2 separate regions of the Homo sapiens genome follow, and region 1 is linked to region 2. Evidence: fine-mapped expression QTL. Tissue or cell type: whole blood. Region 2 holds a variant in brackets; the other region holds the start of a gene. All regions are shown on one strand. Distances are from middle to middle.

Region 1 (8,105 bases), 58 kb after region 2:
GAGTTTAACACAGTGACAACTTGTCTCTACAAAAAGTCAAAAAATAAGGCAGGAGGATTGCTTGATCTCAGGAGGTCAAGGCTGCGGTGAGGCGTGATGGTGCCATTGCACTCCCACTTGAGTGACAGAGTGAGACCCTGCCTCAACAAAACAAAACAAAACAAAAAAAGAGTTGAACAGATCTGAAGGCTAGTTTGAAGGCCAACTACCATTTTCAGTGTAGTCTCTCTAGGGTGATGTGTTGGAAGTGCCCAACAAACAATTTAAAAGAGAAGTCTGAGGATGTGGTCCACAGATTTTTTTTTGTGGAAACTGACCACACAGAACTTTTGAACAAAATGCCTTCATTTGTTCCTAAAATTTGTTATTGTGTCTTTACTATATGAAATTAAACAAATGCTGGCTGGGCATGGTGGCTCATGCCTGTAATCCCAGCACTTTGGGAGGCTGGGGCAGGTGGATCACCCGGGGTCAGGAGTTCGAGACCAGCCTGTCCAACATGGCGAAACCCCGTCTCTACTAAAAATACAAAAATTAGCCAGGTGTAGTGGTGCACGCCTGTAATCCCAGCTTCTCGGGAGGCTGAGGCAGGAGAATTGCTTGAATCTGGGAGGCGGAGATTGCAGTGAGCTGAGATCATGCCACTGTACTCTAGCCTGGGCGACAGACTGAGACGCCGTCTCAAAAATAAATAAATAAATAAAAGTAAACAAATGCTGAATTGAATCGCTAAGTTCAAGTGTCAGTTCTTATAAACAAGGTGAAGTACCAGTTGGGTTTTTTGTTTGTTTGTTTGTTTGTTTTTGGAGACAGAGTTTTACTCCGTTACCCAGGCTGGAGTGCAGCGGTGTGATCTCGGCTCACTGCAACTGCTGCCTCCCAGGTTCAAGTGATCCTCCTGCCTCAGTCTCCTGAGTAGCTGGGACTACAGGAGCACGCCACCACACACAGCTGTTTTTTTTGTATTTTTAGTAGAGACGGGGTCTTACCATGTTGGTCAGGCTGGTCTCGAACTCCTGACCTCAGGTGATCCACCAGCCTTAGCCTCCCAAAGTGCTGGGATTACAGGGGTGAGCCACTGCACCCGGCCCCAGTTGGTTTTTTTTTGTTTTTTTTTTTTTTGCTTTTTTTTTGAGACAAGGTCTCTATCATCCAGGCTGTGTTGCAGTGGTACCATTATAGCTCACTGCAGCCTTGACCTCCTGGGTGCAAGTGATCCTCCTGCCTCAGCGTCCTGAATAGCTAGGACTACAGGTGTGAGTCACTATGCCCGGCCAATTTTTAAATTTTTTGTAAAGATGGGGTCTCATTATGTCAACCAGGCTGGTCTCGAACTCCTGACTTCAAGCGACCCTCCCTCCTCTGCCTCCCAAAGTGCTGGGATTATAGGCATGGGCCACCATGACTGGCCAAAGTACCAGGTTTTTATGGGCAGTAAAACTTTAGCCCAAACTGTCAATTAACTCAATTTTTTTTGCCTCCATAAAGAGGCAAATACAAAGAAAATGGGCTTTCAACACAGAGAAAAACAAATTCCAAGATATGGGCTGAGGTCAGTATACACGCTGTCTATTTTCCTCTACCTTCTGGTTCTTCATCCCACCTCTGTACTATGATATTGATGCTCTGAGGAAGACCCTGTATCCCAGCAATATTCCTCATCTATAAAATAAAGATTTAATTGTGTTCCTCTAAACCCAAAACACACAGGATGATGTCCAGGGAAGTTAGAGGAACATGTGTCAGCTGAAGAATCAGTGGTATGTTCCCTCTTGTCTACCTCCCCAATTCGCGCTGGCCCACATCCCATTTGGAGTGACCATGTCTATGGAGATAGAGGAGGATATTCTTCCACTTCTAACCTCAAAAGGACACACTGGAGGCATCTAGATTGAGGTTACAGCTATCCTTTGAGGAGCTGTAACAAGAATATTTGGAAGTGGACCAAATCTAGAATAATCAAGTTTGAAAGGACTATGGTTGTCCTTTCTGTTGCTACTGTTGTTATACTGTGTTGATAAATACAAAGTATAGTCATAAAGGTGGGGGATTTAATCATGTTCCAGAATGATACGGCTGTTAAGGCTTTCCAGGTAAGCCAGAGAGTTGAGATAATCCTTATTCAAGTGAGAAACGAATTTGGCCCTCCTTATCTGGAGGAGAGGGTTAGAAGGACGATGGATGGATTTGGGGACATGTAGTAGGACTGAATTCCTAGGCTGAGCTCCAACCACCTCTGAATGCCCCAGAGATATCTATGTTCCATCTGGTCTGGTCTGCAGCAAGTCCACAGAAGCTACATTCACTTTTCTGTGCTGAATTATCAAAATAATTGCCCTTCAGCCCATGCCTCATGACCCTGTAGACAGAATCCACTCATTTCCCTATCACATGGGCTACAATTGCTACTTCAAATGAAAACCTGGGAAGCCAATGCCCTATTGTGGTTGAAAGTGTACAATTAGCTCCTCATGCAGCCTGACCCCACTGATTTTTCTGATGCATGTGACCTGGAGTGTGCCCTTTCTGAGACCGCCAATGTCTTCTCCACAGCTGGAGATGCCCAAAACTGCACGCAGCACTTCCTGTGGGTGTGGCCTTGCATTCTTAGGACTGCAGGGTACCCGCTGCATGCCAAATGATCCCAGGCTCCAGCCACTCACAGATTCACAACGCTTTTAAAAATACAGCAGTGGAGTATGAGCGGCTATGTCAGATATGAGGGTTTTCCACCCCCTCCCTTTTCTTTTAAAATATGATTTTGTAATGGTGGCCTCAAGAAACACTATAATTGGTCAGCCTGGGGTGCGTTTGAAGGCCTTCTCTATCGCGTCATTAGCTATTCTCAGGAAAGGCAGGGTATCCCACTGGGAGAATGACAACACACTTGTTTCAAGTTAGGGAAGAGCCTGTGGTTCTCTTCCTGCGTTCAGGGGAAAGCGAACACACAATGTTCGTTTCCTAAATACGGGATGTGCTGTGCTGGCAGGTCATTTTCCACCATGTCACGTCCTTCTAGATGAAGGCAGCAGGGGTCATGACAGGAAATGGCAAATTCTCAGAATGAGACAAGGCTTTCCCAGGGCAGCCATTGGTTCTCTGGAACTATAAAGCACACTCATCCAGAAACAGCCTCAGATTTTACTTTCCTGGAGGCAGACAGAAGTGAATGGTAAGTGGGGAACCCTGAGGCATATATTCGGGATGACTTTTTCTCATTTTCTCTTTTCACCTGGAAAATTATCCCTGGTGGGTTGGATTATGGAAGCATGGAAGTAAAATTAAGTCCTGTGAATAAGGAGATGAGGATTCTAGACTGGGCTCTGTGAAGAATCAGCTGCTTCTAGAATCTGATGTCTGATGCAGGCAATTCTTCCAGATGAGAATGATTTCTGCCCTGATAGCTCAGTTTTGAAATGCTCTATTTCTATGGCTCATTTGCCACTTTTAAGAAGTTCCTAATAATGAAGAGTACAGTGGACATGAAGGTGGGAATCTGCAACTAGGATGAATATACTTTTCCCCCAAGATGTACAACTTGTTCGTATCTTTGTCAGTCATCTTCAGTTGGCTTCAACGTGGTAGAAGTTGTTGAACAAAAATTTTGGCCACTTTATTTTATTCAACCATTACTCATTTTTAAAAGAAAACTTTCATAACAAAGAGACATAATGGTATTAATTTAATGTGACTTAGTTTAAATCAAGCACCCAGCAAAGACTGATGTTTCTGAAGATCCAAGGAGCCCTAGTTAGAATAAACAGTGCAAATCTCATTTTAGGCTTGATTCTAAGAAAAGAGCCTGGAAGAATCACAAGCAGAAGAGTTGCTTCAGGCAAGCATCTAACTTAGATGTTTCTTCTGCTTGGTAGAAAATACGATTTTTGAGGTTTTGGTGAAGTCTTTTTCATTCATTAGAGAGAGAGAAAAGTGTGTTGCAAAACTCCTAGGATCCAATTTTCACATGATGAAAGGGCTTTGTAAACTGTACAACCCACCACTTACAAAGTGTTATCTTAAGTAGAGCAAAGGCCTCAGTACTGGAGAAGCCTTCTAATACCACGCCCCTCCCAGTTTAAATCTTATTTAACACATAGCTGATGAAGCCCATCGTTAACGTTCCCTGGGAGAGAAGCAGAAGATAGCATTATTCCTATTTCCATATGCAGAGATAAGGTCCTGAGAACTTGTGTGGCTCCCCCCGGATTCCAGAACAGGTCTTTGAGAACTCGTCTCATGATCCACTGGAAACAGACCCGTTCCCCTAGCGTGGCAGTGGCTGCTCCGCTGAACTCGTGCCAAGTTCCCGCTGGCGTCCGGGCAGCAGGGCGGGAGCGGCGGCTGGCACGGAGACTCCAGGCTGACCGCGTGTCTATGTCCCCGCAGGGAATGGAGAGGCCGGCGGCCCGGGAGCCGCATGGGCCCGACGCGCTGCGGCGCTTCCAGGGACTGCTGCTGGACCGCCGAGGCCGGCTGCACGGCCAGGTGCTGCGCCTGCGCGAGGTGGCCCGGCGCCTGGAGCGCCTGCGCAGGCGCTCCCTCGTAGCCAACGTGGCCGGCAGCTCGCTGAGCGCAACGGGCGCCCTCGCCGCCATCGTGGGGCTCTCGCTCAGCCCGGTCACCCTGGGGACCTCGCTGCTGGTGTCGGCCGTGGGGCTGGGGGTGGCCACAGCCGGAGGGGCCGTCACCATCACGTCCGATCTCTCGCTGATCTTCTGCAACTCCCGGGAGCTGCGGAGGGTGCAGGAGATCGCGGCCACCTGCCAGGACCAGATGCGAGAGATCCTGAGCTGCCTCGAGTTTTTCTGCCGCTGGCAGGGCTGCGGGGACCGCCAGCTGCTGCAGTGCGGGAGGAACGCCTCCATCGCCCTGTACAATTCTGTCTACTTCATCGTCTTCTTTGGCTCACGTGGCTTCCTCATCCCCAGGCGGGCGGAGGGGGACACCAAGGTTAGCCAGGCCGTGCTGAAGGCCAAGATTCAGAAACTGGCCGAGAGCCTGGAGTCCTGCACCGGGGCTCTGGACGAACTCAGCGAGCAGCTGGAGTCTCGGGTTCAGCTCTGCACCAAGTCCAGTCGTGGCCACGACCTCAAGATCTCTGCTGACCAGCGTGCAGGGCTGTTTTTCTGAGAACATCCTTTCCCCCTAATGACCGAGGCCAGCAAATCATCCTCATGGGATGCTCCAGAATTTGTAGCTCCCTTAGGAAAACACCAAGCTGGGTTAGGAGCCGAAGGCAAAGGATGAGAAAAACTGTTTTTGAAGTGGGCAGGTCCCCAAAGCCCTTCTTTTCCCATCACTGTGACATCTGCCTGGGCTTGAGTGCTACGGACTTTTCAGTCTTCCTAGTGGAAAAATGTGACCCAAAAACTCTTTTTCCTTTATCAAAAACTTTCTGTCTAAACACAGCTGGGCAGGCACTCCTGTTTTAAAGTTATTTCGGGGTCCCTGACCCTGCCCTGGTGGCTTGGCCTGAGACTGGAGAGAGTGCCATCCTCTGGGTCCTCTCCAAGTCCTACTAGTCTTTGAAGTCCTCAAAATGTGCGTGAGGAAGGCGTTTGCCTCTATTCCAGAATTTCTGATACAAAGAACTCCAGAATCCAGAGCAAATCAGCCCTTCTCTGAACGTTGTAGGATGGTTCAGAACCCAGAGAGGACCCTGGTGCTGATATCTCCTCCTCTTCCCTTTCCCCTCAGCTTACTTACTCCCAGATGCGGCCTGGGTATGAAGTAGGCCTTTCCTGAGTGGCTCCCAATCCAGTCCTCCAAGTACTCAGAGGGGAAGCCCGTGAAGCCGTCATCTAAGTCCTGCTCCCTCACATGAAGCTGAGGGCCAGATAGATGGAGCGACTGCCAACTTCATTTCCCGACATCATTGTGTTCAGAAGAGAGTGATGGGTTTTGAGTTAGACAGTCCTGGGCTTGAGACAGGCTTTGTCACTACTGTGTGAGTGTAGCCACCTAATCTCTCTGAGACTGTGTAAAACAAAGATGATAAAATCTCACCCTGTTGTGAGATATTAAATGAGCCAAAGTGCCTAGCATGATGGTGCTGGCTCATATAGTGTAGTCCCTGGAATGGCAAATTAACATCACCCAGGAACTTGTTAGAAAGGCAAATTCTTGGACACAACCCTCCTGATTTATGGAATCAGAAACTCTGGCTGTGGGGCCCAGCAACCTGAGTTTAAACAATTTCTCTGGGTGGTTCTGCGGCACACTAAGGTTTGAAAATCACTGCAACAAATGCTAACTTCTAATCCCCTTGATGAGCTTTCACGAAGTCTCACGGCTTCTCTAGGGACTCCATGGTCTTCAGAGTCGTTCACAGATGACCAAGGACAGACTGTGTCCCAGAAGCCAAAATGAGAGAGAGAGAGAGAGAGCACGCGTACGTGCACCCTGGGGCAGTGTCTCACCGTATGAACAAGGGATGTAACACTAAAAGCCCATTAGGGGGCAGTGTTTCCCGCCTGTTGTAGAAACTGGTACAGAAAGGAATATGAAGTTCCTGAAACTGACCTTTGTCTATTATTACCTTCTCTGAAAAGTGCCAGTCCATGTATTTTTTATTTATTTTAAGTTTGTAATTTAATTTTTAATTATTGTTTAGTGTTTGCATTTAATTTTATTTAATCACCACATTTAGAAAATAATAAGAGCAAGTTTCTAAATGGGAGACTGCTGAGGCTCTTTGCAAGAGATGAGATTAAGTTTGAGTTTCTAAGGCAGGGCATGAGCTGGAAATAGCATTGCTTTCCTTGATTGTCTCTCTCCTTCAGGGAGATTCTTTTTCTCTAGTGTTTTAAGTGATCCTTTGAAGTAAGTGTGGAGAGTCTTGAATGGCAAGACCAGGAGCTGAGTTTAAGCTTGTAATGGAAGCTTGCATTGTGGGATATATAACTGAGGAAGCATATTTATCCTGAAGGTATTTTGCCAGAAGGTATCACTTGACCTGGAAAAGGAATCTATTTAGTTCAGGAAAGATAAAAAGTTTAGAGGTATGTGAAGGAAGCACTTAGAACTTGCAAGCCTGATGTCCTATCAAGTTATGTCTTCTGGGTGACAGACAAAATCGCTTGTCTTATGGTGGTGATGTGTTGCATTTTCACTTTGGGGTCTGTAAGAAACTGTCAGTGAAAATATGTACAATTCCTTCAATTTCCATTCTTAACAACTGTAATGTTGAAAAATAAGTTGAAAAGTCTTTGGGACCATACATGCAAAAACGGTGCCTCTGTTACTTAATTATTTAATATTCTATAAATGTACCCAATCTGTCCGCACCCTTCCCAGTGATGGGGCAGTATGTCTGAGGAAGTATAATTTCAGTACTGGGGTCGGGGAGAGGAGGTGATGTTTCTACATTTTTATTTTTTCTATAAATTGCAATTGGTCTGTATGCTGGTTTATTTTGAAATTTATATTGGTTTCTTTTCAAGCTGGTGTCATCTCCTAGACTGTTTCACCCAGATGCTAGCATTTTTTTTTTTTTTTTGAGACAGAGTCTCACTCTGTCACCTAGGCTGGAGTTGCAGTGGTTTGATCTCGGCTCACTGCAACCTCCGACTCCTGGGTTCAAGCAATTCTTCTGCCTCAGCCTCCTGAGTAGCTGGGATTACAGATGTGCACCAGCACACCCGGCTAATTTTTTGTATTTTTAGTAGAGACAGGGTTTCGCCATGTTGGCCAGGCTGGTCTTGAACTCCTGGCCTTATGTGATCCGCCCACCTTGGCTTCCCAAAGTGCTGGGATTACAGGCATGAGCCACCTCGCCTGGCCAGATGCTAGCATTTTAGATCAAACAATTCATTTTAGATGAATTGTTTTGTTTCACAATCATTTTAAATCATTTTAGAATGTACTTCACATTATTAGTTGTGTTATGGCATAAAGGTACAACCATTCCCTAACTCCATCTTTTATTAATGCTTAAGTTTAAATTATATTCTTCCAATGCCTAAGCTATTCCCTAGAATTAAACTGGGCACTTTTGGAAGCAGCAACAGTAACAGCAGCAGCAAACTTTTCCTCTCATATTTTGGGTGTATCAAAAGTTCTAGACTTTTGAAGTTATGATTTCAGTGGCCCACTTTATTTCTAAG
Region 2 (8,105 bases):
CTACGCCCACCCACCCCCTCTCAGCCAAAAGGGAGGTAAAAAATCCTGCGGGCCCAGCTGGGGGTGGGGAAGGGGCCCACAGTCCCGCTGGAAAACCTCAGCGGCCACCTCCCGGATCCGGGCTGGCCTGGGGACTGGGGTGGGATGGGGTGGGGTCCGCCTCAGGCCGACCCCGCAGAACCGAAAGTGCCGAGTTGACACGTAAGGCCCAGCCCCTCTGCGGCCGCCCGCGCGCCCGGCCTGTCACGCGTGGGGACACTGAGCAGCAGGCATCGGAGCGAGCAGTACAAAAAGAAATCAAGGCGTTGGGCGCGAAACCTCGACGCGCCTCTAAAGGAACGTTGAGAAAAGGCAGGGAGCAGGGCGCGCGGCCGGGGGATTGCATCATTGCGGCTCCCCCTCCAGAAAACGGGCCCCGAACCGCGGCGACCATCATGGCGCTCGCGCCGGGCTGCGCTCCCCGCGCGCCTGCCCCGCGCTCCGGCCGCGGCCCCGGAGCCTCGGACGCGCATTTCACAAACATTCTCGCCCTCTCCCGAGCGCCCGCCCCCACCCCCTCCTTCTTTCTGTGTGTGTGTGCGTACGTGTGTGCGTGTGTGCGCGCGCGTATTTGTGTGTAGGGAGAACTTGCAGATGATTTTTTTTTTCCCTCCCGTGCTGCTGGTTGTAAACTTGATTGGCATTGGCTGCGCCCACTGACCCCGACGCTGAGTCCGCTGAAGATTTAAGGTGGATCCGAGAAGCTGCAGCTTCAGGCGGAGTCTCGCGCTCTAGTCGGTTTTGGGAAGAGAAAAAAAAAAAAAAAAGCCCCGAACCGGGCGCCCGCCGCGTTTGCCGAATCTCCCGCGGCCCCAGCCCCCGCGCCCGCCCGGGGCCCCTCCCCGCCTCGCGCGCCGCGCGCGGCCTCCGCCCACCTCCCACTTCTTCCCCATTGGCCGGCGCGTGCAGTTTGAATTTTTTTTTTTTTTTGATGCTTGTTTTCTTGTAAAAAATACAGTCCCCCAGATCGTGTGACGAAACCTGCTTCGGCGGCCCGAGGTGGGGGTTTTGAGTCGGTTAGTGGAGGCAGTGGGAGCAGGATGGGCGGAGCTTCTGTTCCAAAAATTTCCCCTAAGTGCGGTTGACAGTGTGCAGGCAGGCGGGGGTGCGCGGGGCGGTCAGCGATCTGCAGCTTCGCGGGGACAGAGATGTAACCCAACTCGTTCACGGATGTTCCGCGCGCCGTGTCACCGGCTGCGGGCCAGGGGTACTCGGAAGGCGCGGGCAGGAGCCTGGCGAGGATGCACCTTCCCCTGCCTTGGAAAGGTAGAACTGGGGAGTGCGGGAGGGTGGAGGTGGCCCGGAAAAGAACACCTCTTCGCAACCAAAAAAAAAAAAAAAAAAAAAAAAGAGGAAATAGAGGAAAAATGTGTTATTTCAACCGCCACTCAGAACCCATCATAATTCAGCCAGTCGGTGTCATTTTTATTGAATTAAATTTTAAAAAAGTTTTCTTTGATTTCCAGAGCGTTTTTGCGGGAGGAATATGTTAAAACAAACTCAAGATACGAAATGAGACTTTTGAAGTGCCTTTGATTTCTGGGTACGGAAATTCTTTTGATAAAGCGTGTGTACGTTAAGATTTAGGATGACTTTTTTTTTCTTTTTTGTAATACAGGTCTAATGGAAATGACATTCTTTATGAATTAGAACCCAATTATGTTTTAAAGTTTATAATAAGTCAAATGATTCTCTCAGTCCCTATGTCCGTATTAGTGAAATTCTATCTCCATATTAGCGAAATTTGCATAGATACACACCTTTTTCTTTTTGTCTTTTAGTCTTGCTGCAGTGTATCGGACGAGTTTAACCAGATATCCAGCACTAGCCTTCTAACAGTTTCTAACTCAGTGGTGACATTTTTTAGTTCTTAACTCCCCCAATCCTTCTTAGCCTAACAAACCTCTTAATTAAGGTCCATGAAAGACCATAAACCAACCTGATTATGCCTTTAGCAAGGCTGTGTTCACTTAATCTCTAATCCCATATCATAAAAGTCCGCTAGTCACTCCTGACCTCCAGGAACCCACCTAACCAGGGTGGACACTATAAGAAAACATGTGTTTTAATGGAATGAGAACTTTTTTGAGTTGAAGACACGCTAGCCTCAGGAAGCAGTGAGCTCACCATCCCTGGAGTGTGAGTCAAGCACTAGTCTTGGATGACCCCTTGATAGGAACGTTGTAGACAAGATTCAAATATCAAATAGTATTTGGACTAGTGATTTCAAAGTCTATTCCAGACCCCTGTGAAACTGTATTTCCAACCTTGGCATTTCTGGATTTCCACTAAATTAAGCCACTTTCCTTGCTCATTAGCATCTTGTAGAGCTGTGTGGCTATTTGAGCGCTTGAATGTGGCTAGTCCAAATTGAGATGTGCTATATGAGATAAACACCACGTTTCCAAGAATTAGTATGAAGAGAAAATGTTAAATATTTCATTAATAATTTTAATATTGATTACCTATTGAAATAATATTTTGTCATATTGGGCTAAATAAAATATATTATTAAAATGAATTTCATCTATTCCATTTTACTTTTTTAGTGGAGTTACTAGACAATTTACAGATGTGTCTCAAATTATATTTCTATTGGACATTACTGTTCAAGACTATCACCTGTGGTAACTTGAGGCCCCATCTTTAAAAGTGGTGACTATTAATACTGAGGAGTAGGTGGTAACTTCTAGCTGCCATCCTAACTTCTCAAATTAAAGTGAGACCCAAACTCAGCCTCTGAAAGCTTTATTATTTATTTATTTATTTATTCTTCTTCTTATTTTTTTTAAAAGATAGAGTCTCCCTGTCATCCAGGCTGGAGTGCAGTGGTGTGGTCATGTCTCACTGCAACCTCCAACTCCTGGGCTCATGCAATCCTCCCAACTCAGCCTCCAGAATCACTGCAATTACATGTGTGCTCTGAAACCTTTTTTTTTTTTTTTTTTAACTTTGTAGAGAGTCTTGCTGCGTTGCCCAGGCTGGTCTTGAACTTCTGGCCTCAAATGATTCTCCTGCCTTGGCCTCCCAAAGTGCTGAGATGACAGGCATGAGCCACCATACCTAGCATCTCTGAAACCTTTAAATAGAATTCTGCCAACATCTAACACCTACTGTTTAATCTTTAATTAATTAATTAATTAATTTTTCTTTTAAAGACAGGTCTCACTCTGTCACACAGGCTGGAGTGCAGTGGGCATGAGCATGGCTCACTGCAGCCTCAAGCTCCTGGGCTCAGGAGATCCTCTACTTCAGCCTCCCATGTAGCTGGACTACAGATGTGTGCCACCACATCCAGCAGTTTTTTTTTTACTTTTGTAGAGATGGGGTCTTGCTATGTTGACCAGGCTGGTATTGAATGCCTGACTTCAAGGAATCCTCACACCTTGGCCTCCCAAAGTGGTGGGATTACAGGTGTGAGCCACTGAGCCCAGCCTGTTTAATACTTAATGTAGGGTTCAAGCCCAGACTATGGGAATATAGTATAGATATGTCTGATGAACTCAGACTTGGTCACCACAGCTTTTCACATTATGGCAATAGGAAGACTGGAGGCCGGACACATTGGCTTACACCTGTAATCCGCACACTTTGGGAGGCTGAGGCGGGCAGATCGCTTGAACTCAGGAGTTCTGGACCAGCCTGGGCAACATGGTGAAACCCCGTTTCTACAAAAAACAAAAAAAAATTTAACCAGGTGTGGTGGTGCTGCCTGTAGTCCCAGCTACTCAGGAAGCTGAGGTGGGAGGATTGCTTGAGCCTGGAAGGCTGAGGTTGCAGTGAGCCGAGATCATGCCACTGCATGCTGGCCTGGGCAACAGTGAGACCCTGTCTCAAAAAAAAAAAAAAAAAAAAAAAAAAGAGAGAGAAAGAAAAGAAAGAAAGAGAAAGATTGGAAACTCCAATATGTTAGTTGTGACTCTGCCAAAAAAAACTATTTAGACCCCACACAAAACCTGCACAGGCAGAGCCTCACTGCGACTCTTCAGGAGATAGGAAGAAAGTGGGGAGACAGAGCAGTATGCTCATTCTAAGATTGGGTCTCTAGCAGAAGCCTGCACAATGAAAAAGTATACCATATTCTTGGATGGGAACACCCAACATGACAAAGATGGCAGTCCTCCCTAATTCATCTGCACCTCTTTACACTAAATTCTGATAATAGGTTCTGATCATCCTGTTTCGTTCCTTTGTTGTAGCAGTCTGTCCACTCAGGACCATAATATAATTACTGTAAATTTGGAATATGTTTGAATTGCTGGTGGGCCGAGTCCTCCACATCTCGATGGGTCCCTTTACTCCTTTTTTTCCCCCAGAATGTTCCTGTTTTCTTTTGCTTGCCATTTTCCCCATGTGGATTTAAAATGAATTTGTCTAGTTTTAAATATAATTCTGTCGGCATTAAAAAAAAAAATAAAGTGGGATTCTTATCTCACACATCAGGATAAATTCCTGAAGAATTAAAGAGGATGAAGTAGAAAGAAATGAAACCATAGACATGCAAGGAGAAACCTCAAAGGATTTTTAAAAAAATCTCAGAGTTGGGGAAAGACTTTCTGAGTA[C/T]GACAATAAACATAGAATTCATAAGATGTAATTTTTTTTTCTTTTTGGTAGAGACAGGATCTCTCTACGTTGCCTAGGCTGGTCTTGAACGCCTGGCCTCAAGTGATACTCCTGCCTTGGTCTCCAAAAGTGTTGAGATTACAGTTGTGAGCCACTGTGCTCAGCTGGGAGGAGCTCTTGCGGCCAGGATTTTAAGACCAGCTTGGACAACGTAGCAAGACCTGTTTCTAAAAAATAAAAATAAATAGTTAAGCTATTCTGGAGGCTGAGGCAAGGGGATTGCTCTATCCCAGGAGTTCAGGGCCGCAGCTCAGGCTACAGTGAGCTATGATTTTACTACTGCACTCCAGCCTGGCAGCTCTAAAAAAATAAAATAATAATAATAATAATATAAAAATAATTTAAAAAGCAATGGTTTAAATGGTAATTTGTATCTTACTTGTATTTAACCACAATAAAAAAGAATATACAACTACTGGGACATTTTTTTTTGAGACCAGGTCTCACTCTGTTACCTAGGCTGGAGTGCAATGACTCATTGCAGCCTCGACCTCCTGGGCTCAAGTGATCCCCCTGCCTTAGCCTCCCAAGTAGCTAGGGCTGTAGGTGCACACCACCATGCCCAGCTAACTTTGTGTGTGTGTGTGTGTGTGTGTGTGTGTGTGTGTGTGTGTGTGTGTGTGTGAGAGAGAGAGAGAGAGAGACAGACAGGTTCTTGCTATGTTGTCCAGGCTGGTATTGAACTCCTAGTCTCAAGTGATCTTCCTGCCTTAGCCTCCCAAAGTGCTGAAATTACAGGCATGAGCCATCATGCCTGGCTCACTGGAAAAATTTAAAGTTCATCCATGGTATGTCTAAAAGAATCTCACACAGTGTACTGGGCCATATTATTTGTGAGATGCTGTAGTGGTTCAATTTCAGGCTCTGGAATCCTACTGCCTGGGTTTGAGTCCAGTTACTGAACTGCCATTTGCAAGTTACTTCACCTTTTAAAGATTTTATTTCGGCCAGGCATGGTGGCTCACACCTGTAATGCCAGCACTTTGGGAGGCCAGGGCGGGCAGATCACTTGAGGTCAGGAATTGGAGACCAGTCTGGACAACATGGTGAAACCCCATCTCTACTAAAAATACAAAAATTAGCCGGGCGTGGTGGCAGGCACCTGTAATCCCAGCTACTGGAGAGGCTGAGGCAGGAGAATCGCTTGAACCTGGGAGGCAGAGGTTGCAGTGAGCTGAGATCATGCCATTGTGCTCCAGCCTGGGGGACGAGATTGAGACTTCCTCTAAAAAAAAAAAAAAAAAAGAAAGAAAGAAAAAAGTTTTTTTTTTTTTTGTCTATATAATGAGGATGCTTATAACTCTCATAGGGTATTAAAAGTATTCGATGGAATAATGTATGTGTTGTATTTAGCCCAATACATGGTATATAATAATGACCATTACATATTTGTAAACAATCAAATTGGCCAGGCACAGTGGCTCACGCCTGTAATCCCAGCACTTTGGGAGGCCGAGGCAGGCGGATCACAAGGTCAGGAGATCGAGACCATCTTGGCTAACACGGTGAAACCCCGTCTCTACTAAAAATAAAAAAAATTAGCCGGGCGTGGTGGCGGGCGCCTGTAGTCCCAGCTACTCGGGAGGCTGAGGCAGGAGAATGGCGTGAACCCGGGAGGCGGAGCTTGCAGTGGGCCGAGATCGCACCACTGCACTCCAGCCTGGGCGACAGAGCAAGACGCCATCTCAAAAAAACAAACAAACAAACAAACAAAAAATCAAATTAATGGGGATATCCAGTTTTTATTTTGTCTTCTCCCAGTAACCACAGCCAGTACTATGTTAACCTTGTCAATATGTCTTATTATTTTTAATTACTGCTGATACTACCATTAAGAAAAACAAATATTTTAAATTGGCATTTAATAAAGAGAATTAGATATGCAAAAACAGTTAAAATGGTAAATTTTATGTATTTTTACCACAATAAAATCTTTTTAAGGCACTTGTTGAATTTAGTGTCACTTCCAATGATTTCTGAAAGGACTTGGTATAGATTTATTTGTGGTAATAAATCAGTAGCACATACACCCACATACATATGCAATGACAAATTGGGAAAAATGTTTGCAACCCACATATCACAGGGTTAATTTCCCCAATAAATAAAGAGTTTCTACAAATCCATGAAGAAAACACAAACCAGTAGAAAAATAAGCAAAGGATATGAACACAGTTATCGGAAAAGAAAATATGAAAGGCTTTTAATAAATGAAAACATGCTCAATTGTAGACTATTGGGATATAAACCATATACAGAATATATAAATATAGGGAAATTGAGGCACTCAGATACAAAGACGGCCATTATTCTTTCTTGACAGTTTAATCCTTGCTTCCCTCCTTTCTACCTAAGGGTTAGTGATATTTTTCCAGCTTCATTGGTGACCAAAGAAGCAAAGAGTTTGCATGCGTGGAAGCCACGACCGTCTTTCAGGTTCAGTGTAAAATCCCTCCCATCCAAATAATGTTATCTTTAGCTTAGTGGCATCTCCTTACTTTGTACATAGAAATCCCCCGAATCAGCCTCTTAAGGCCAGCACAACTATAAGTATGTAAGAGGCTGATGCTCTCAACACATCCCCATCCATTCCTGCTTTTAAGTTTAATGCCTGTACGTTGCTGGTGATACCAGTCTCTCCAAAACCATCACCTTATTCTGGCTTTTCGTTCAAGCTCTCTATTCTCTTTTAAAAGCCTCATGAAGAGTTGATTACATGATAAACATAAATTGTCTAATTAGTAGAGAGAAACTATGCTATGCAATAAATGGTGTTAGGTTACAGCTAACCGTTTGGAGAAAAATATTAAATCTCCCTTACATACACACACATTTTATATACTGCGCATTTAAAATGTATGTACTTTTCAGCTGGGCGCCGTGATTGTTAATTACTGCTGTTATTACCGTTAAGAAAAATAAATATTTTAAATTGGCATTTAATAAAGAGATTCAAATATGCAAAAACAGTTAAAATGGTTTGGTCTTAATGTGTTATGGAAACTTTACACCTGTAATCCCAGGACTTTGGGAGGCTGAGGCGAGAGGATCACTTGAGGTCAGGAGTTTGAGACCAGCCTGGCCAACATGGCGAAACCCCGTCTCTACTAAAAGTACAAAAATTAGCCAGGTGTGGTGGTGCATGCCTGTGATCCCATCTACTTGGGAGGCTGAGGCAGGAGAATCGCTTAAACCTGGGAGGCGGAGGTTGAAGTGAGCAGAGATTACACTACTGCACTCCACTCCAGCCTAGGCAACAGAGTGAGACTCTGTCTCAAAAAAAAAAAAAAAAGAAAAGAAAAAAGAAAAAGAAAAAGCATGTACTTTTCTACGAATTTAATTTTGAGAAATAATCAGACGTATGACTAAAGATATATTTATCAAAGTAATCACTATAATGTTAAATATTAGATTTTAAAAAGAACAAAAGAGTAAACAACCAA

The links. PIP is the estimated chance that this variant, and not a neighbour inherited with it, causes the effect.
Region 1: it holds the start of APOLD1, and the variant in region 2 is fine-mapped to the expression of APOLD1 in whole blood (INTERVAL, PIP 0.98).

What each region holds. Positions count from the first base shown.
Region 1 is chr12:12,782,523-12,790,627 of GRCh38, forward strand. It overlaps APOLD1 (apolipoprotein L domain containing 1), which reads left to right and starts at 3,137. Exons shown (of 2, transcript NM_030817.3): 1 at 3,137-3,172; 2 at 4,387-8,105. The coding sequence starts at 3,170. The coding sequence ends at 5,130. RefSeq lists silencers at 4,424-4,523, 4,554-4,663.
Region 2 is chr12:12,724,792-12,732,896 of GRCh38, forward strand. It overlaps LOC105369663 (a long non-coding RNA gene), which reads right to left and starts at 332. Exons shown (of 2, transcript XR_931366.4): 1 at 1-332. It also overlaps a transcript of APOLD1 not described here. RefSeq lists silencers at 37-116, 457-706 and an enhancer at 1,087-1,356. The variant C/T (reference allele first, on the strand shown) is at 4,603.